3 linked regions of the Homo sapiens genome follow. The protein of the gene in region 2 purifies or fractionates together with the protein of the main gene of each other region. This does not show direct contact. Each region holds a gene or a part of one and is shown on either strand. Other genes may lie near its edges. The genes, in order: RAB11FIP5, ARHGAP26 and JPH1.

Region 1 (7,109 bases), on a different chromosome or scaffold from region 2:
AAGTGGCTTGAAGCAGCCATTTCACCTCTGTAAAATGAGGGTGATAAAATCATGCAGTTAAAGACAAGGTAAAGTGAAACTAGAACTATTATATTCAGAGTATGGTGACACAGTTGGAAAACCCTTTTCCCTAGAGCCTCCTCCACCCTGATGCCTCCTCTCCTCTCCAAGTGCCCACCACAGCAGCCTGCCTCACACACTGGCACACAGGAGCTGTGTGGGCCTCAAGCCAACCCCTGCTGTCTCCCCGCATCCACCGCCTACCCCATCTTTTGATTTGGTATCTACAGTAAAACTGCAAGCCAGACATAATTGCAGGACAGGATACAGCCTCTTATCAGGCCAGAAGATGATTCTTATCACCTCCTCTGGCACCATGCCTGGCACCAGCAACCTTTGGAGGGAGCCCAGGTCCTCATTCATGAGTTCCCCCTGCCTCTGTGGGGACAGCTCACTCATCCCTCCTCAGACCCCAGCCAGGTCCAGCCTCCCTCCCTCCTGGGCACAAGCACTTTTAATCCTCATCCTAATGCTGTAGGCTCCAAAGGTCTGTCACTGTCAGCTCACCCAGCACAAGGAAAAGCTGCAAAAATGGCTGGAGACAAGTCAAACCACAGAGAGCAACAGAAAAGATGTAGGGTTGATAGCACAGTGTAGGGAGAAAAGCATCAGGCTTAGACATCAGAAATCTGGCTGCCACTAAAGAGTTGTGTGACCTTGGACAGGTCATTCCACCTCCTGAGACCCCAGTCTCCATATTCGCAAAAATGGTGATCCCCCTGTCTGCCCTCAGGGAAGAATGAAATGAGGTGATACTGGGAAGGCACCCTTAAAAGTAGGCCAAACCACACAGAAAGATGTGGGTTTATTGTCTATCAAAGGCCTTTTACAGGCCATCATCAGCCCCATATAAGTGAGGTGGCCCAGGACCAAAAAGCAACAACCCTGCCCAGGAGGAAGGAGAGAACCCGCAAGATGACCTCTCTCAGGGGATCTCTGGCAGGTGGAAAAATAAAGAAATTCCACTTAACCCATCCCCCTCCCCAGTGTGCTCCTAACCCCATATTCACCCTGACCAGGAGACTCAGGTTGAGGAAGACAAAACCAAGTGGCGATGGTCCCCTCTGCCAAGGTCTCAGTTCAGACCCCACAACAGGGGGAAACAAACAATAACTTCCCTGCCAGGCTCATGGGAAGTACAGAACTGTGTGGTGAGAACGTTGCATTTGGGAACAAGGAGGGAGGGAAGAAAAAACACAACGCATTTGCCTTTAAATGCAGAAAACACCTTTGGAAGGTTACACAAGAACTGGTAATGTTGGATGTCTCTGAAGAGAGGAGCTAGGTGACTTAAGGTGGGTCAAGGGAAATTTTTTTCATTATGTGCCCTTCTGTACCTTTAGAATTTGGACCAGGTGAACTACTCAAAAGTAAATAGGGGCCAGGTGTGGTGGCTCACACCTGTAATCCCAGCACTTTGGGAGGCTGAGGCAGGCAGATCACTTGAGGTCAGGAGTTCGAGACCAGCCTGGCCAACATGGTCTCTACTAAAAATACAAAAATTAGCTGGGCGTGGTGGCACGCACCTGTAGTCCCAGCTGCTCGGTAGGCTGAGGCAGGAGAATCACTTGAACCTGGGAGGCGGAGGCTGTAGTGAGCCAAGATCACACCATTGCACTCCAGCCTGGGCAACACAGCAAGACTCTGTCTCAAAAAACAAAACAAAACAAAACAAAACTAAATAGGAAGTAAAGAAAGTCCTGCTGTTTTGCTGAGAGTGGCACACAGGGAACTAAGCTTGGCTCCCCTCACTCCCTCTCCTGGCCCAGTCCCACCACACTCACAGTTTCCCTGCCTCCAACTCACCCTGCCTCTAATCAGGTCTCACCTGTTATTCAAGGCCTCACCTCTCCCAAGAAGCCCACCCTGATCACTCCAACTGGTGAGCTCCCTCTTCTCCTGACCCCCTCATTCTCTCACGCTTTTTATATGCTGCTTTGTAGAGGAATTGTCCTTGCTGCGTTAGGCTTATCTCAAACATATTTTAGCCCTTCTGGAGAAAGGGCTATCCACTTTATTTCCCTGGTTTCCCCCACAGCACTGACCTAGGCACAGTGGTTACAATGGTTGTCCAGTAATTGCTTCCTGGATGTTGTGAAACAGAAGGGAAAAAATAGCAAATGACTGTATTGCTGCAGGAGGAAGAACAGGATGGCTTGGAGTGTTCTGTCACAGTAAAACCAGCATGTGACGTCTTGGGAAGGATTACGGAGTCTGGTATGTGCTGATGCCCCCAAGCCCTGCTTGAAAGGAGCAAATCTCCCCAGGGTGGAAAGTGCCCTGGTGGAAAGTGAGGCTGACCTTCTCAGGCCTCACTCCACTCCTTTTTTTATTTTTATTTTTTGAGACAGGATCTTGCTCTGTCACCCAGGCTGGAGTGCAGTGGGGCAATCATTGCTAATCGCAGCCTTGAACTCCCGGGCTCAAGTGATCCTCCCACCTCAGCCTCCTGAGTAGCTGGGACTACTGGTGTGCACCACCATGCCCAGCTAATTTTTTGTATTTTTGTAGAAATGGAGTCTTGCTATGTTGCCTAGGTTGCTCTTGAACTCTTGGCCTCCAGTGATCCTCCTGACGCGGCCTCCCAAAGTGCTGGGATTACAGGCATGAGCCACCACACCCAGCCCTCACTCCACTCCCGAGAGGTATCTGGTGGCAGTGACTCCCTCCCAAAGTATGAGACAACATCCCCCAGCCTCTGGGACAGACATAAGGCTAGAGCTGCAGACCAAATGTGCTTATCCCAATAAACCAAGGACTCACCCAGGAGAAGCAGGTCATGCCTACAGAGCACCAGATTAACCCCCGAGATCCATGTCAAGGAGAAGAGAGGAAGCCTTGGCAGGCAGCAGCTGAGCACCTGGCCCTGTGCAGAGCAGGGTCATGGAAGACATGGGGGAAGACTGAGGTGGGCAGTGTGGTGTGGTGGCCAAGAGCATAGACTGGGAAGCCAGACTGCCTGGGTTCACATCCTGACTTTGTGCCATGTGCTGTGGTCAAGTCCAGTGACTCATGCCTATAATCTCAGCACTTTGGGAAGCTGAGGCAAGAGGATCACTTGAGAGTTCATGGCTGCAGTGAGCTATGATGGCACCACTGCATGCCAGCCTCAGTGATGGAGCCAGACCCTGACCCCACCCCCTCAAAAAAAAGAAAGAAAAAGCAAAGTCACTTTACCTCTCCGTGCCAAGGTTTCCTCAGCTGTTAAACAGCACCTACACCTCAAGGGCTTGCTGTGGACAAATGGAAGTCCAGACCTTAAGACAGTGCCAGCACCCAGATAGGCCTTCATCAGCAATGCACTAGACCAACGAGGCAATGAAAATAATGCACCAAAACAGGTGCCACATGCTCCAGATGTGGGGATTCAGAGAAGGCTGGGGAGGCAGATGGGTTCCATGATGGCCGACAGGTCTCTGGTGTATGTCCCCTCCTCACAGAGGAGGAGACCACAGCCAGCGCCAGTGGCTCTGTCTGCTCCGAACATCTCCAGGGCTCCCTGTCTAGGCCCCAAAACACAGCACTTGGCTATAGGGCTTCCTCCAAATGTAGGGAGATATCCAGGCTTCCCCCCCTTTGGAATCTCTCCCCCACCAGTGGCCCACTCTTGGCCTTTCAGGCCTCTAGAACTGCCTTTGGATTGGACTACCCTTCCAGGTCAGCAGAGAAGCCCAATGTCCCCATCTCACTAAAACCTGGCAGGCACTTCCACAGAAACTCCGGGGTGCACACAGGGCTCCAAATGCCACCTCTTCTTTACCCCAAATCCTACAGCTCTGTGGGCTGCCCGGGTCTAATGGAAACCACACAGAGCACACCCTCCACTAAGTGCTGGGTAGTGAGAGTGTGCAGCTCTCCCTCTGCAAACCCCAGTTTCCTTGTCTGAGCTCTCTTCCAGCTCCCATGCTGGAGTCCCATGAGTAAGGGCTGTGCTCCCTTCTCCACTACCAGGTGAACCAAAGGTCACAGTGGCCTGTGATACCCCCTCCCCACCCTGCAGCTTCTCGGAGGTGCTGGCTGCCCCTGGGAGCCCCGTTTTGGGAGGCCCCACTTACTGCTCCTGAGAGGCCGGGGCCCAGCTCCATACAGAGGCCTCATGTGGCCAGCCAAGTCCCTCTCCTCTCTGGCCACCATTGTTCCCAAGGTAGAAATAACCTCAGGCCAGCTCAGTAAGGGCACTGTGATCAGACTCTTCCCTGAAGGGACTGCCAGGTGCACAGCAGACTCACATGTGGACTCATTTTTATTACTTGGCTGTGGGGAAGAACAAAACTGCTTCATGGCTACACTATTTTGCAAAGGAAAGAAAAAGAGGACTGCTTCCCCTGGAGCAGAGCCACAACAGCTTCTGTTCTTGTATTCATCATCTGTCCCTGCGTAGGGTGAGAAGGGCAGGAGAACATCTGGACAAGGCCAGGCCAGTGGTTTAGACAAGAGCGTCACAGCACTGAGGTGGCAGCAGTGACAAGTGGGGCGGGCAGCTCCCAGCAGAGAAGGACAGCCCTCAAGGTCACCGGGATGTGGCTCTGCTGAGCTGTGCCTTGCAGCCAGCTGCCTACAAGGAGAGACAGGTGGGGCAGAGATGGGGCTGACCACAGGCCCCTTGAAACTCCCTGGTCCCAGCCAGGGCTCAGGGCCAGGGGCAGATGGGGAGGGCAGGGGAAGCTGCCAGGCCAGAGAGGAGGAGCTGCCCAGCCTGACTGAGGAGTCACACTTCCTACCCCGCCCCACACCCCAAGACGCTGCTGCTCAAGCAACCCCAAATAAAAACCACCCCATAACTAAGGGCCGTGGAGCCTCGGCATACCAACGACTGGCTTCTGAGTGCAGCCACACCCTTCCTCTGCAGCCAGAGTAGACCTCCCCAGCAGTGCCACAGGCCTCCCATGCCAGCTCTGGGGCCGAGCAGGAGCCAAGGCCAGGGGCTCAAGTGACCACAGCTGTTTCCCGAGGGGCAGAGTCACACCCAGAAGCCAACAGAGAGAAGGCTGTGGGGTCACGCACCATCTGCCCACCAACTGTCTGCCCAGGCTGTCTGTGGGCTACGGGATAGATGGAAGCCCTCAAAGACCATCCCAGCCTTAGGCTAATGGGATGCATGTCCCCTCAGGTGCCTCCCAGTGCCCCCAAACCCACCCACCTAAGGAGGTCTCAGAACACCATGACCAGCCAGGCAGAAGGCTCTCATCTCAGACCTACATCTTTCACAGCCTCAGCTCTCCGAGCTCCCTTGCCAAGTGGCACAGTCTAAGCAGGGGCTGAACGGAGCCTCTTGCAGGCCACAATTCATGGTCACAACAGTTTTAGTCTTTGTGATGAAAAAAGACAAACTGATCCCAACCCAAGCTGAACCCACAGCCTTTGCTTTCCCAAGAGGCCAGCTTCTAACCATTGATCCAACAGGCCCAGGATGACGATCCTGTCTGCCACACTCCAGGCCTTACCGCAGGGACCATTTCACCCTTATCAGGATGAGGGAGAAGGTGGACAGGGGCTCCATATAACACAGTTGTGCTCTCTCCTCCTCTCCTAAAACACACAAAGACCAGCATTCCAGGGGGCAAAGACCAGGTCTCCCCAACCAAAATGGCCTTGTGGCAGATGCCCTGTCTTCTTACTCCAAAACCTTTGCTGCTGCTTCCTTCCTTCCCTCTTCTGATATATCCAGGTCCATTCCCTGGGGGTGTGATCCACACCAATCGCATAAAGACCAAAAAGGTCCAAATGACCCATCTGACCCCACAGGGAACAAGGAAAACTAACTAACCACCACATCCCATCCCTGTCTTGGGAGTTAGGGAGGCAAACACAGGACACCCACTGGGGAGTGCTAAGAAGGACGTTGGGCCAGGCGTGGTGGCTCATGCCTGTAATCCCAGCACTTTGGGAGGCCAAGACAGGTGGATCACCTGAGGTCAGGAGTTTGAGAACAGCCTGGCCAACATGGCAAAACCCAGTCTCTACTAAAAATACAAAAATTAGCTGGGTGTGGTGGCACATGCCTGTAATCCCAGCTACTCAGGGGACTGAGGCAGGAGAATCGCTTGAACCTGGGAGGGAGAGATTGCAAGTGAGCCCAGATTCTGCCACTGCACTCCAACTTGGGCAACAGAGTGAGACACTGTCTCAAAAAAGAAAAAAAAAAGGATGTTGAAGATAAAAACCAGAAAATAAATCGCAGAGAAGCATCCAGGATTTCCAGACCAACAGGAACATGACGATCCATGGACAGTTCTACTGAGGGTGGGGAGATCATTAGTTTCCTTGTGTACTACCATTACATTTTGTTTTGAGAATATCCTCTTCAATTATTTGGAAGCCTCTGGTGAAATTCCTCATTTCAAAGACTGCCCCACTCACACAAGACCTTCGGAGGCTGCTGAAGCACCTACAACCCCAGCCACCACCATCACACAAAATGGGGCCCCAGAGTCACCACCACGCTAATATTTTGAGAGCTTCTATGTATCCAGAACTACATTAAGGCTTTTACAGATGGTGTCTTATCTAATCTGTACAACTCTATGATTATTATCATGACCTTTTTCAAAGTGAGGAAGTGGGATAAGTAACCTGTCTGCTGGTAAGTCACAGAACGGGGAGTGAAATCCCAGTCTCCAGGTTTTTAAGCCCTGGGCCATCCTTCCTTCCCAACAGGGCAGGGGCAGCTCCAGGCAGGGCTGCCAGGGAGGAGAGCTGCAGAGCTGCGGGCTTATCTGAGCCTGGTTTCAGGACTGCAGAGGCCTCTCAAGCCCAGCCCTATTTCTTGGGCCTCTTGCAGCAAATAGAATACAGAGAGCTGCAAAGGGCCAGCTCATTTTGTTGGGAACTCTCGTACTCTTCTGTGTACTCCGTCACCCATGGTCCTAAGGCTTTCCTAGGCTCTAAGTTCTAGACTGTCTCCCCCATCCCATAAGAAGCTCTTCCAGACATTGTTACTAAAATCTCCCTTCACCATCACTGCTCTGCACTGACCACCTACCATGTACAGGGACTGTACTAGGTGCTTAAGCTGCATTTTCATTTCATCCCTCACATCAACCATATGA
Region 2 (7,109 bases):
TGAATTTACATCTTTAATCATTTTAATAGGCCATCCACAGCCTCTCTTGTGTCTCTAATTCTCAACCTCCGAGTCTTAAAGGCTGTAAAGGCTCAGAAAGTGCCAGCTCATGTGGGTCTCTGTAAGTGTCTATGTCTTCATAGATGTAAATATGTGCTGTATACACACACATACACACACACATAAATATACTTTAGAATCAACAGATGTGCATTGTCAGATACAAGGTTGATTCTGGCATCTGGATAACCAAGAAAGCTGCTTTTAGGTGTCTGGACAACTTTGTAGAAATGGTTGACGTAGAACAGTATAGAATGTCTTAACCTCTCCAGGACTGCTCCAGGTAACTGACATTTTGTTTATCAATACTCTGGTTCTGACTAAAGTGAATTTTGACATGGACATGTCATGTCATGTCATACCCACACAAGGGTCTAGGTCTATGCTAAGCCTTTGCTCTCTAAAGCATTCCACCTTGAGAGACGTTTTCACTCTGTAATGTCTGGCACAACTTTTGTAAAAATATTAGCTGTGAAATTTTTCTGTGATCGCTTTTTTTTTTCTCCTCAGTAAGCATAATATTTATCCTTCTAAAAAAGTATCCAAAGCTCCTTAGGATGGTTCACCTTTCTCTTTCTCTCTAGTCCTGGTGTTACTTTGCATCCAACACTTTTTCCTCTCAATAATACAGGTGCTTCCACTGGAAGACCACATTTCAGCAAGGACTGGCTCTGAATGACACCTGGATTCTATGGCCTTTCCCTCCACTTTGGGAAGCTCTTTAGTTAGACAGGTACTGTAGGCGGCAGGAGAAAAAAAGCTAATTATTACTTGTTGGAGTCTTGTCTCAGGCATGCTGTGGGGCTGTGCAAGATTCGCTGCTCTGCTGCTGTTGTCATTTTGATGCTACAATTACAGAGAGGCGGTTCAGCACCCAGCCGATCGGTGTGGCTGCCAAACACATTTGAGCATGACAAGATAAATTTGTTAGACACCAGCACAGGGTGGGTGAGAAGACATCCTGCTGACTTTATAAAGTGATGTGGGGCAGGGTTGTCGAGGTAAGTGATGATTGTCAAGTTTGCCAGAGATGATAGATAACTCCTTTGGCAGAACACCTAGGTCATTCCTTTTAAAGTCAGGTAGCTAAGAGGCTGTTTGGTTTCTGCAGCGCTGGCTACCTACTTGGGGAACATGGTTGCTCACAAAACATTCAGTACTTGGGCAAACTCTGGGTGCCATGGTGGCCACTGCTGTCTCCGGGAGTGCCATGTCCACAAAACTCAGTCATCCAGACTTGCTTTTGGGAGCAGAAGCCAGAGGATGACAGGTGCCAACAGACAGGCAGGGATCAGGTTATCTTTGGCTTCTTCTTTCTGTCTTTCTCCCCCTCAACTGTGAATGCTTTTGGAGCCTCTGCAGTCAAGACAGAGCTTTTACTGAGACAGCAGTTGCCATTTTCAGCTGATAGAAACTCAGGGGATAGAAGGCCTTCCCTTTGAGCCGCAGGTATGGCACACACAACTCTGCAGCTCTGGGCAAGTGCCTTGGGATGCCCTTGTCACTAGTATGGCTCTGTCCTGCTAATGCCAGTCTGTCAATACTTGATTGTTCATTCTTTCTCTTTGCCTCTCACCGAAAAGCACTCGGTGAGAGGAAATGAACTGATATTCAAAAAGACAGTGTGGTCTGACATAAGAAAACACATATTGGCCGTATAAATACTTCAGACATTAAGCTAAAGACTGGCTCCAATTCTAGGACACCAAGGCAGGCCACAATGCACAGGGTCCATCCCTATATATGTTTATTTTGAAAAACAGGAGAAAAGATCTTCTGTCTTGAGCAAGTCAGGGTTTTACTTGCCTGGGGGCAGGGATTTGAAACCAGCTGTCTTCTCCTGGCATGGCATTCTTTTTTTTTTTTTTTTTTTTTCCTTTGAGACGGAGTCTGGCTCTGTCACCCAGGCTGGAGTGCAGGGGCGTGATCTTGGCTCACTGCAATCTCTGCCTCCTGGGTTCATGCCATTCTCCTGCCTCAGCCTCCAGAGTAGCTGGGACTACAGGCGCCCGCCACCACACCCGGCTAATTTTTTGTATTTTTAGTAGAGACGGGGTTTCACCGTCGTAGCCAGGATGGTCTCAATCTCCTGACCTCGTGATCCGCCCGCCTCGGCCTCCCAAAGTGCTGGGATTATAGGCGTGAGCCACTGCACCCGGCCATGGCATTCTTTAGCTACGAAATTTTGTTAGTAACCTGAAGGAAGAGTGAGAGGCTGACCTTAATACCCCTAAAAGATTCAGGCTATGGCTAAGTGATCCCTGGGTCTTACAAAGGAAACTGGAGGCTACTGGGAAAGCTCAGGGATCCTGGGCCATGGTCTTCCACTCTGATAACCAATTCATTCTCCTCATCTGCCCTAAAGTTTCCTGTTCACACAGAGAGAGTCAGAGGTAGGGGGCATGGATAGGGGAGAGAGTAAAATCTTTAGTCTTCAAGTTCCTTCCTACTCATTGGCTCATATTCTGAAGTTTATCCAGTTTTGTAGCTAATAGGAAGGAGGGGAGCCTGGCTGGGCAAAGGGAAACAGAGAAGCCATCTGTCAAGGGCACCGCACAGCCACAGGGAAGCTGGGGAGGGGGTACCTGAAAGATCCCATTGGCAGCAGCTCATGGGCACTGCACAGACACACGGAAGCTAGGGAGGGAGTTACCTAAAAGATCCCATTGGCAGCAGCTCTGTTTCTCCCGATTTCAAATCAGAGCCAACTCAAGAGGGAGGGACATGCTTCCAAGCAGTGAAGCTGGGGCCAAATGTCTACAGGGATGCTTCGTGAGGCACCCCCAAAGCAAGGATCTTGGCCTTCTGTTCCTCCACATGAGCTCCAGGTAAGTTTATGATGGGACAGATTACAACTTCAAACATCAAATGTGGTCGGCCGCAGCGGCTCACACCTGGAATCCCAGCACTTTGGGGGTCTGAAGTGGGCAGATCACTTGAGGTCAGGAGTTCGAGATCAGCCTGGCAAACATGGCAAAACCCCATCTTTACTAAAAATACAAAAAACTAGCTGGGTGTGATGGCTCATGCCTGTAGTCCCAGCTACTTGGGAGGCTGAGACAGGAGAATCACTTGAACCTGGGAGGTGGAGGTTGCAGTGAGCCAAGATTGCGCCACTGCACTCCAGCCTGGGCCACAGAGTGAGACTCCATCTCAAAAAACAAACAAAAACACAAATAAAAAACCTCATCAAATGTGTTAAAAGCATGATGTTGGTCTCTCTTTGAGAAGCGTAATAGTATGTGAATGCACATCCCCTGAGGCCTCCATTTCCCAAGGTCTTCTTGTCCTCAGGTTCACAGATCTAACCTACTAGTATACTCCCTTTCTTCTCGAGTTTTCCCCAGTGGCTTTCTTGAGTTCTGTCTTGGTCCTGTCCATTCTTAATTCTCATTCCCTGATTCAATGGTAGTGTCTCGCTTGCTCCTGGGTGAGTTCCCGGAAAAGAGCTGTATAATCCTTGAGCTGATAAACTGAGTAGTGAATCACCATGACAAACCCCTGTTAACTTTAAAACCACCTGTAAAGCTATGACGGCACAATCTATACCCCTCCTGGAGTCTTCCTCTTCTTTTGGGATCACGGGAATTGGAGGTGAAAGGGAAGAGTTTTAAAATGTTTAGGAGAAGGGAAAGCAGCAGCACATTGAGAACTGAACATTCTAAGAAGCTGGTTCTTTAAGAACTTACAGACGCACACAAAATTTGAAAACTAGCTTGTCCACATTTCTAAAGCCTCAGAAGATGTGGAGAAAAAGAAGTAAAGAGCACAGCAACTGACTCATCTCTTTCTGGCCTGATATCTTGGGGGTACCAAGAAATACACCTGAGAAGAAAGACAAAAACTCGAATGCCTGACCCCACTTATTTAAATCCTGAGCTTCATCTTACTACTAAGTAGGCATTCTTTGAAAAACTCATTGCCTGGAGATGCTCTTCCCATCTCCAAATCCAAAGCCCAAGGGATGCTTAAAAACACATAAAGACTGAACACCACTGATGTGTCGTGCCCACCAACAGGACAGCAGAGAGCAAGGCCATAGAAATGTCTTCTCTTTCCTTCAGGCCGAAGCGGGGACAGTGACCTTGACTCTCTTCAGCTTTGCCTCCCCTCTCTCCCTCTTAAACATACTTCTTCAGCAATCAAAGCCTAAGTGTGTGAGCAACTAACTTAAAGAATATCAAATATAAAACTTTGCCATATAGTATTTCAAATCACTCTATTTACAAGTTTATCTTTTCAAAAAAAAAAAAGTAAAAGATACAGTAATTCAACACAATTCAAGTTTTTCTTTTCTTCTTTAAAGTTCCCTAACAAGGAATTCCAGAAACAGGAAACACTCTGAAGCAACGCTGCCATCCAAGGGGCTCCTGGGGAGCTTGACGGTCCATCGGTTTGTAGTTTGTCTAGAGTCACCCTTGCAATGACATTCACATGTGGAAGATACGGATAACTCTGTTGTTTGCAGGCCAAGTGAATTTGAAATCTCCAGGTAGTACTTCCCCATCCAAGACAGTCTTCCACAAGATCCAGCCTCTTTTCACCAGCAAATTCCCTTTTTCAGAGGGTACTCATCCCACCCTCCAACCTTGGGTTTCTTCCTGAATCACAATGGCCTATATTAGTCTCAAGCCTTGAAAGACTGAGAAATAATTCCCTTTTTCAGAGTGGCAGTGAACATAGATGTGCTTTTAAACTATAGGCCATACGGTTAGCCTAGGAATTAACCTTGAAAACCACCACAGCACCAGTGTTCAGCAGCCCAGAGTAGGGCAAGGGGGCTGGCCAGTGGTGGGTTAGAGGCAGGCAAGGGTGGGAGCAGAGATGGGTGAATGGGAGGACATGGGGAAACCAGTCAGATGGCATCACCCATTGGGAGGCAGCATCTTACCCTTTAAAAAACAAACATCAGTTGCATGGAGGAACAGAAATATTAAGACTATGTAATTTAATCTCAAGAGGTTACTAGGGTGTGCTCCAAATATATTCCGATGCTGCTGAAATTAATCAGAAAGGGAACAGTTCCCAGCTACTATCCCATCTGCCTCAAGTAGACCACCCTAATTCCTTGATCCTGTGCTTCAAGTTGTTAGAAAACCATTCAAAAAAAGTGTACCAAAAAGGGGAGAAAAAAAATGTGTCATGCAAAGAGGATGTGTTATTTTATTTTTTTGGTTTGGTTTTAGAGTAGGTTGGGTTGCCGTGGTTACTAGGCGATGGATGGCAGCCCTTGGTGGCAGAGAGGTTCCTAGCCTGGGAGGGAGAAACGCAGGGTGTGTGTGTTCCCGTGCATGAGAAGACTGGATTGTATCTCACTGATGACAGGCCAACGGCTGCTTTAGAGATGGTGAGAGATTGGATCTTATATAAACAGTGTTTTAACCCTCTTCATCCTGCATGCAAACAGATCCAGCTGCCTGTAGCACTTTAAGTCTCAAGTACTGAGAGGTGGGGTAGAGAGAGTGCCTATTGTAAACAAAAGCAATGGATCCAGCCTGGATCTCAGCGCCAATTTCTTCACCCAGCCCCAGCAGGCTTAGCTACACAGTGTGCTCTCAGGGACTATTTCTATCTGACTTCCTCTTTCTGAAGGTTGGGCGTTTGGACCGTTGAAACAAAATGAGTGCCCCCTATTCAGGGTACTCATGAGAAAACGGCTTTGCAAGTCTTCCTCTTAGTTATCAAATGCTCTCCTCTGCTGATTGACTTCTTTTCTTGCAGTACTGATGCATGTTGGCTGAGATGATCATGGAGATGAGTGACACCAGAGCTCACAGAAACATTCATGTTGACAGGTAGCAACAGAGTCAGTCACGCTGCATTTCTCAGTGGCAAAGAGAAATGGCCTCGACACTGGAATCAGCAGTTGTCATGGATACCATGTAAAGCTCAGCAGTTCTGCTGGGGCCCACGGTTAGAGGAACTCCACGTAATTCTCAGGGATGAGGCCAGTCTTTCCGTTCAGAGTCCCCTCCAACCAGCCAGGCTCCTGAGATGGGTGAACTGTACAGGAAGGGGAGAGAAAGCGAGAAGAGATGGCATTACAGATAGAGCAGGCGGCAGATGTGTGTGTGGGGTGTGTGTGTGTGTGTGTGTGTGTGTGTGTGTGTGTGTATGAAGGAAGCTTGGACAATGAGTACAATCACTTATTAAGTTACATCATTCTAGAAGTTTAAACCAAAGGTTCTGAACCTTTTGTGGAATATAAGCCTTCTGATGAAAGCTGTCCTGAACTTTCTTTACAATGAAAAAGGAAACAGACACAGACATACAAAATTTTGTGTACAATTTTAGGGGTTTCACGGATTTTCTGAAGCTCCTGGTTTAAACTACAAAGAAGTGACAGATTCCTACTCTTGTTAGAGGGCAACAGTTGTCCTGGTCCATCCATACATGTATCCATCCTTCCATCCTTCCTTCCTTCCTTCCTTCCTTCCATCCATCCACCCACCCACCTGCCCAGTATCAACTATGTACTCAGTGCAGTGCCCATGGAAGACTGCTAAGAACTACTCTTTAAAGATATCCAGCTTCTAGAGGCTGGGCCTGGTGGTTCACGCCTGTAATGCCAGTACCTTGGGAGGCTGAGGCAGGTGAATTGCTTTAGCCCAGGAGTTTAAGAACAGCCTGGGCAACATGGCAAAACCTTGTCTCTACAAAATATACAAAAACTACCTAGGTTTGATGGAGCGTGTCTGTAGTCCCAGCTACTTGGAGGAGGGGGAGTGCCGAAGCGGGAGGATCGCTTGGGCTCAGCAGGTCGAGGCTGCAGTGAGCCGTGATTGCACCACTGCACTCCAGCCTGGGCGACAGAGCAAGACCCTGTCTCAATCAATCAATCCAGCTTCTTGTCATCATCTTACTTTCCTTCAAATCCTTACCCCCTGCTTCTAATTTCCTTGCAAATTTTCTGGGGTTTTTTTTTTTTTTTTTTTTGGTTGCTGTCATTTTGAATAGCCTTTGAATAGCCATTTCTCTGTTTCACTCACACCCTTTCTTAGTTTTCTTTCCTGTTCTCTAGATTTCCCCCTCCTCTATATACCAGTTTG
Region 3 (7,109 bases), on a different chromosome or scaffold from region 2:
AAGCTGTAGCAGGGCACAGGGTAAGTCTTGATTGGAAGAAATTTTCCAGGTGGTAAGAAAATAAAAAACAGGAAATCAAAATACAGAAAGAAATCCTAACTCAAAAAATTATCTTTTTTTCCTTTAAGAGATTGTCACTCATATTTAAAACTGTAAGGAATTTTCTGCTAGAAGAGTTACTATGGTTTATGTGAAATCTAAAGCTTCTCTAGCTAGAAACACAAGAGAAGAACAAAGTTTAATTAAGTATTAACAGCAAAGTTTAATTATATATATTTACCTCTTTCGGGGGTGAGGTTCAAACCCAATTTGATGGGGACGCTTTAAATTTTACACAAATTCAAAAGAAAGATTAGATGAACCTCAAAACAAACTTGGATGCAAATCACAGGAATGGCTGAGAAAAAAGTGTAGTCATTTTTCAGAATGGGCTGAGATACCTAATTGGAAAATTCCCCTCTTGTCTACTTGATGGTAAGACGCTAAAGATGCCTCTTCTGACCCTACCAGAGTTGTCATGTTGCAAAACTCTACAAAAATTTCGGGATCACATTGAATGCGTGCCCCTAGGACATGAGTCCATACGCAACCATTGCCCACAGGGGTCACAAAAGTTTCTTGAGGAAAATCTTCCTCAAGAAAGTAATCAATGCCACAGCCTCCCTTCTCCTACCTCTCATACTCGAGTTAACTAATTTCCTGTGTTAGTCTCCATCCCAGGAGATTTTCTGTATTTCTAGGAGATCAATAGCCAGGGTGATCCTGAGGATGGATCAGATCTACTTGAATATTTCTGAACTGCTTATGCTTCAGTTAGCATTGTGTTGAAACAAACATCATAATAGCCAAGGTTTTTTGAGCATTTATTCTGCGCTAGGCACTATGCTAAGAACTTTTAAAGTATTGACTCATTTAATCTTCACAACAACCCTGTGATAGGTACAGATGAGGAAACCAAGGCACAGAGCAGTTAGGAAACTGTCCAGGGTCACACAGCTGGTAAGCAACAGAGCTGGGATGTGAACCGAGGAAGTTCAGCAACAGAGTTCAATTCTGTGAATTTTAAAATTATTCACGAATGTCTAACTTATACAGTGTCTTTCTCTCAAAACTATGTAGTACTCCATTATCTTAAAGGTCATCCACTGACAACATTTATGATGACTGTGCCACTTCCTAACTCTGAGGAGTGGGGACGGCAGCGTTCTGTTACTATTGGGAAGACAATGTTAATTATTAGAATCTTCGCGTGAAGGTGTCAAGTCGGTCTTGAATTTTGCAGAGGCAGTCTAAAGCTCAGGGTAGCTGCGGAGCTGCTGGGGCTTCCCTTCCCCCTTGGGGTGTAGAGGGGTACCCTAAGGACCAACTACTGAGATGGAGGATGCTTGTCTAACTCCAAGAATCTGAGAATTCCGCAAATAAGTAAAACAGATGTTTTTTCTAAATGAGGAGGCTGTGAATTTACCAAACATACGTATACTACTGTTTTACAGAGAGACTCTTTCAGCTAAGAGCTGGGTAATTCAACTTTTTTTTCCCCCTATCACAGCCTAATGTATAGGACGCTGGGGCATACACTTCCCCTTGTAGAAGTCTAGAAGTCAACTAAAGCCCACAAATGGGTACCCAAAGGTATAAAAGGTATGGCCTTGCATTGTTTGAATTTTTCCCTGTGTAAATCAGGCAAACTAACACTGATATATGCGAGGCCTTATTAACCTGGGGATAAACATGCTGAAAGTCAAATGAGAAGTAAGCTATTACATTTAACAAATTCAATAGTGATTATTATAGTTGTAATGTCAAGATACTGTCATATTAAGGTTTAAAATCTTTAAAATGAATGCTTACTGAAGAGTCAGAATCTTAAAGTTAGTCTGTTTTGAAAACAATTTTTCTCCATGCAGGTGGACTCCTAGGAAGTTGGTCCAGTTAATCTGAATAATTTATGTTTAGCTAATTAAAAAGTTGAAAATTTGAAAAAAGAAGAGAACCAGTGTTTTATAGATATTAGCAAAATAAACACACAAGAAATTTTAAGCATAAGTTAACAGAGGAATTTTAATTGTTTAATCCTGTGAGTAAATCAAACAGACAAAAATAAGAAACTGATGGCTGTACTATATTCTTGTTGGCCAAGATATTAATCCACACCATTATGCAAATATGTCTCTATAATTTCTAGTGAATACTAGGTGTGTAACTTTCAACACCTCTGTTCTAAAGGGATGTGATCAGGTCAAGAGGTCATTTTTTAATCAATAATTAGCTTCAGATTTTATAAATACTATAGCATTTGATAAAACACTAATTCCATACATTATTCAAAAAATCTCCTTTTAAAGAAGGTATAAAGATTTTTCAATAACACAGAGCTTTTCTGGCTGAATAATAAATAAATATCTTAAATGCTTAAGACTAATTGATACTAATAACCTGCATCTACCAGAAAACTGAAATTGTAAGAGTTCTCACACTTTGAAAAGACAGAAGACCAAAGAAATTCTCTTGAACTGTTGGAAATTTTCAGTTCTCTTTTGGGAAAGAAAAATGTTCTAGCTGCAAAGCCTGGCTAATTAAAGTCCAAACTACGTATGTATGAGAAGAATTCACAACGGCTAGAGGAGACGTTCTTTTGTGTAAAGATGCTGACCGCTGTGGTGAAAACAGGAGAACTAAGAACTTGTTGGTGCCCTTTTCCTAGAGCTCTGAGAGCGGCTGGCCCTTGGCAGGGGTCATGATTCCTTTCCAGCAATCAGAGAGCAAGCTACCAGGAAGCTCACCAAGACACGCTGTTAAAGCCTTGCTAAAATGTGCTAAGATGCTGTGCTAAGCTGGTCAGGTCTTACCTACCTGAATTACATCTAAAGTGGGGCTGGGTGAACATAGGGGTGGTGGGGGGAATTTCTGCCCAGAGAGCTCTTTGCTGTCTCAAGCTACCAATGTGTTATGTGCTGCTCTAAACAACCCTGTGCTTCTAGAACCTTGGTTAGCCTGGCTGTGATCAAGATGCACAGTCACCCCACACAGCTCGCTGAAAGAAACAAAGGGAAGAAAGAAAGAGAAAACGCTACTTGCAGTACTTACTGAATTGGCTTCTTTTTCCAAAGCAGGGCATGAATCGTTGCTTGCTGGATTCTTTGGTATAGCAAGTTCAGACTTCTTAGCTTTTGGCTCAGCTTTGCTTTCTTTGGCAACTGGTTTTGTCACAGATTTGGAGGGACTCCACTTGTTAGCGGATGGCTTGTGCACCAGTGCTGAGGAAGACTGGCTGGATCCATCGCCGTCCTCCACGTCTACTGGAGGGTGCTGGGGGGCGTTCAGCTTCACGTAGTAGCCGTGATACTGAGAATGCAGCTCCCCGTTACTGGGGTTGGGGATGTGGTGGCGGCCAGAGTACTTGGACTGGGGCACAACCGCTCCTGCCTCCTTCGTGGGAGCCTTTGACATCAAGGGCTTATTGACAATGGCCGTCACCTGCTCATCAGCCACACTCCTTTTGTCTTGGTTGAGTCTCGCCCCTGAGCTGGGGTTTTGCTTCTTCAGGGGCTTTGGGGAGGAAGCAGGAGAGTGGCTGTGTTTGGGACTTGCCTCAGGAGATCTTGGGGGTGTCGTGCCTTTGCGATAAAAATGAGGAGACTCCTTTGGTGTAGGTGGCTTTTCTGGTACCTTTTCTTCTGGATTTTCTTTAGCATCTACACCTTCCTGAAATCTCTGTTTGACGTAATCAGGGCCTGGCCAAAAAAAAAAGAAAAAAGAAAAAAAGAAAGGAGGTATATATACATATATTTTGCTAAATCAGATTAACCTTTTCTCTTTTAAAAATAATATATTCATAAGGCTTTGACTAAACACATATTTCATTCTCTGGGGAAAAGTTTATTTATTATGGAAAGGCTGCTTTTAAGATAATACAGAATCTAAACAGTTCTGGCTTCCCTGATAATTGCATTCTTTCTGCCTACTTGCAGAATACAGAGGCAAAATTCATGTTGATGGAACATTGGTCGCAATATCATAATTAATCTGCTTGTTCAAATTATGTGGTGTAACTAAGACACAGAAAGTGTATACTTGTACAAGGAAGTAAGCTGACTACTGTAAGCATCTGAAAATTTAATAAAGTATACTGTAAGAGGAGAACCTGTAGATAACATATTTTTAATGATCTGTCATCAAACATGCACTAAAACTTCCTAGTTTGAAACAATTTCTGAGGCTTAGGTTGCACGACACAAAGTCACTTCCATGTAGTCCATTCACAGCTATGGAAAACACGGATTTGCACAAGCAGTGTTTTGCAGGTATCAAAGTCAAGACAAGGCAGTTGTCTCTGGTTCTGTAGCTTCAAGATTTTTTTTTTCCTTTTTTATATACCTCAGGATTGTTTATAAAAATCTTGTTACTTTTTTATAAATGGGAACAAATTTTCATTAAAAAAGAGGCTATTCTTCTGACAGAGGAGGAAAAAATGAAAAAAAAAAAAAAAAAGTGGCCCTGCTGCATTGTTATTTTACAGGGAGTGAGCTATAAAGAAACAGAGTGTGTGCCACAAAATGTCCAGGCCCTGGGAACTCGAGGAGGCTGTGGTCTGGAAAGGGGCATCTCTGGGCTGAGACAGAGACCTTAGACTTCTAGGGCCTTCAGCTCTCAGCAAGTCATGTGCGTACTTTGGCTACCACTCCACCCATCTGCCACTTTTCGCCTCATAAGGTGAGGTCAAGGTCACATGCAGTGCAACTGACCCTCTTCCTCACAAATGGGCAGAAGCTGACAATGTCTCTTGAGTATACATGGAAGACACTGCCCCCACCGACATGCTTATAGAGAGTTGACAGGCTCTTGTCAATTCCACAACACTGCATCTGTTCATTTTCCTTCCTGCCTTCTACCCCCAACCCTTCACCCCAGACAAACTCACTAACTCACTAAAAGATTTACAGAGGGACTGAACAGCAATTATCCTTAATTGTGAAACTACATACTGCACACTTACACTTGTAATTGCTCTTCCCATGGTGGTCTGAGTAATAAGTTATTGTAATGAGGCTGCTATTTAATTATACAAGGAATTTTCCAAAATTTAAAGCCTCACCAAAATCTTAGGGAGTAGGTGTTATTATCCCCATTTTACTGAAAGGGAAACAGCTATAGCAACTGAAAAAAAAATCACATAGCTCCCATTATCTTTTCAGAAAAAAACATAATGCAACACATAATATTTTAAAGCCAGAGACAAGAATTCCTGAGCACCCACCATCGCAAGTTATACTCAGGGCACAAAACATAATAGTATTATCACAGTTTCCACCTTCTAGAAGATACATCCACTCCTGGGGATTCAAGTTTCCCAAATTTGTCAAGATCGCACATGGACAATTGAGACTTCCTTTCTAAACTGGGTAAGCTCCCCCTTTACATAACTGACAATTTTCTTTTAATTCCTCCATCAAAAATGGCAATGTTAATTCTTAGGCCAGTGAAAGTTATTTTGAATGACAAAAAGCAGCAACTGCAAGCATTCAAAAGGCGATGTCCTTCTGTTTCTGAATTCTTTCTTGGTGCTGTGTGTCTGGACATAGCATTAAGGGGAAAAAGGGCAGCATGAGCACAAAAAAGTTATCTTTCATCAGCTGAACTGTCCCTGCTCTTTAAAACTCATCAGGTCATTGATACTAGTCTGTCATGGAGAAGCCCCTTGTGATTCACCTGCAGGCATATTTTAACAAAACCCCTCTTCTTCTGTGATAAAGTATATTCTCTAATACATCTTGATGCAGTGTGATGTTTACATACTTTTCCCTCACTTCTCTACCCAAAATTTCACTATGGTTGGTTTTATTTGTGCTTTACTGATATTCAACTTCATAGCATTACTAAAATACCCATCTAGGTATGGTAGTGGATGTACTTTGCAAAGATAATTAAAATAGTCAAGGGCCTTGGAGCCAACGGACTTTTAATTTAAGCCACTTAATGCTGAAACAATTACATAAAATACAAAGTGCTTTTAACATCTTTGATCTAAAGATAAATGCAAGTTATTTTTGCATAGAAAAATTGCCAATATCTACTAAGATTAAGGCACATTAAAAGCTAATGTTTAACTTAAATATACAGAAAAGAGTGAAAAAATAGACTCTGGCAAACATTTTTCGTTATGCATTCTCAAAGTTGGAGGGAAAAGGTAAAGAGTCACTGCGCCCTGAGAAATGAAGCTGTCACAAAGCCCATGCATTTCACTTAGAAGATGTAAGACCATGAGATTGTAGCTTACAAATTTAGGATTTAAATCTTTGTGATGCCCTCGTCACAAAAAAATGTCATTTTTTTGAGGTGATAAATAGGTTAATTAGCTTGATTTAATCATTCCATATTGTATTAAGAAATTGTAACATCACTTTGTACTTCATAAATATATACAACTATAACTTATCAATATATACATTAAAAACATTAGGATGTATCCTAGTGACCTTCAGCACCATCAGTATAGGTGGATAGGCCAAGGTGAGACTGATTTGGCCGTTGGAATAATTTGTATTAATGAACTTATGAAGCTAAATTTTGGATTCCATTGAAAGTATTTCTTATGATATTTATCAACTCTCAAATACTGGTCTAATCACTTCTTTAACCTTTAGAAATCTGATGTGTCACCTCTTTGGACACAGTTTTCTTGTCCTAAATGCAGTAAGAAAGGCATGTCTTACATGATTACTCATGCCCACTCTGCTAAGATGAGTTTAGGTATACTCACTCAAATTGATCTACAGGGCTTCTGATGATACTCAAAAATGATGAGCTCAAAGAATTTACTAGAATGGTGGAAGTACATTTTAGCATCAACTTTCACATTTAAAAAATTCCTAGCTTTATTATGCATTCAAAAAATATCTGGGTAAGGGAAAAAATGCACTCCTAAGCAGGGGCGCCTATGCTTGCTGCCTATCAGAGCATCTGAGGTGTTATGGCCAGATATTTTAATAAGTATGAATTGAAGCCTAGAAATATTAATGTTTAACAAATGATCCGAGTGATTCTAACGCACTGGGTTATAGGCATTTGACACTATGCTAGCAATATGTTGATACTGCTTGCATTGATTG

Evidence for each region.
Region 1: the proteins of ARHGAP26 (region 2) and RAB11FIP5 purify together in Homo sapiens (affinity purification with mass spectrometry; 2 studies listed by BioGRID and IntAct, with this or other methods). This does not show direct contact.
Region 3: the proteins of ARHGAP26 (region 2) and JPH1 purify together in Homo sapiens (affinity purification with mass spectrometry; 3 studies listed by BioGRID and IntAct, with this or other methods). This does not show direct contact.

The regions. Positions count from the first base shown.
Region 1 is NC_000002.12:73,102,857-73,109,965, forward strand, and holds part of RAB11FIP5 (rab11 family-interacting protein 5), read right to left. Parts: intron 1-7,109. UniProt on the Homo sapiens protein: Rab effector involved in protein trafficking from apical recycling endosomes to the apical plasma membrane. Involved in insulin granule exocytosis. May regulate V-ATPase intracellular transport in response to extracellular acidosis.
Region 2 is NC_000005.10:143,221,312-143,228,420, reverse strand, and holds part of ARHGAP26 (rho GTPase-activating protein 26), read right to left. Parts: exon of another isoform or gene 6,998-7,109; intron 6,064-6,997; coding exon 5,975-6,063; 3' UTR 1-5,974. UniProt on the Homo sapiens protein: GTPase-activating protein for RHOA and CDC42. Facilitates mitochondrial quality control by promoting Parkin-mediated recruitment of autophagosomes to damaged mitochondria.
Region 3 is NC_000008.11:74,241,442-74,248,550, forward strand, and holds part of JPH1 (junctophilin-1), read right to left. Parts: intron 3,735-7,109; coding exon 3,088-3,734; intron 1-3,087. UniProt on the Homo sapiens protein: Junctophilins contribute to the formation of junctional membrane complexes (JMCs) which link the plasma membrane with the endoplasmic or sarcoplasmic reticulum in excitable cells.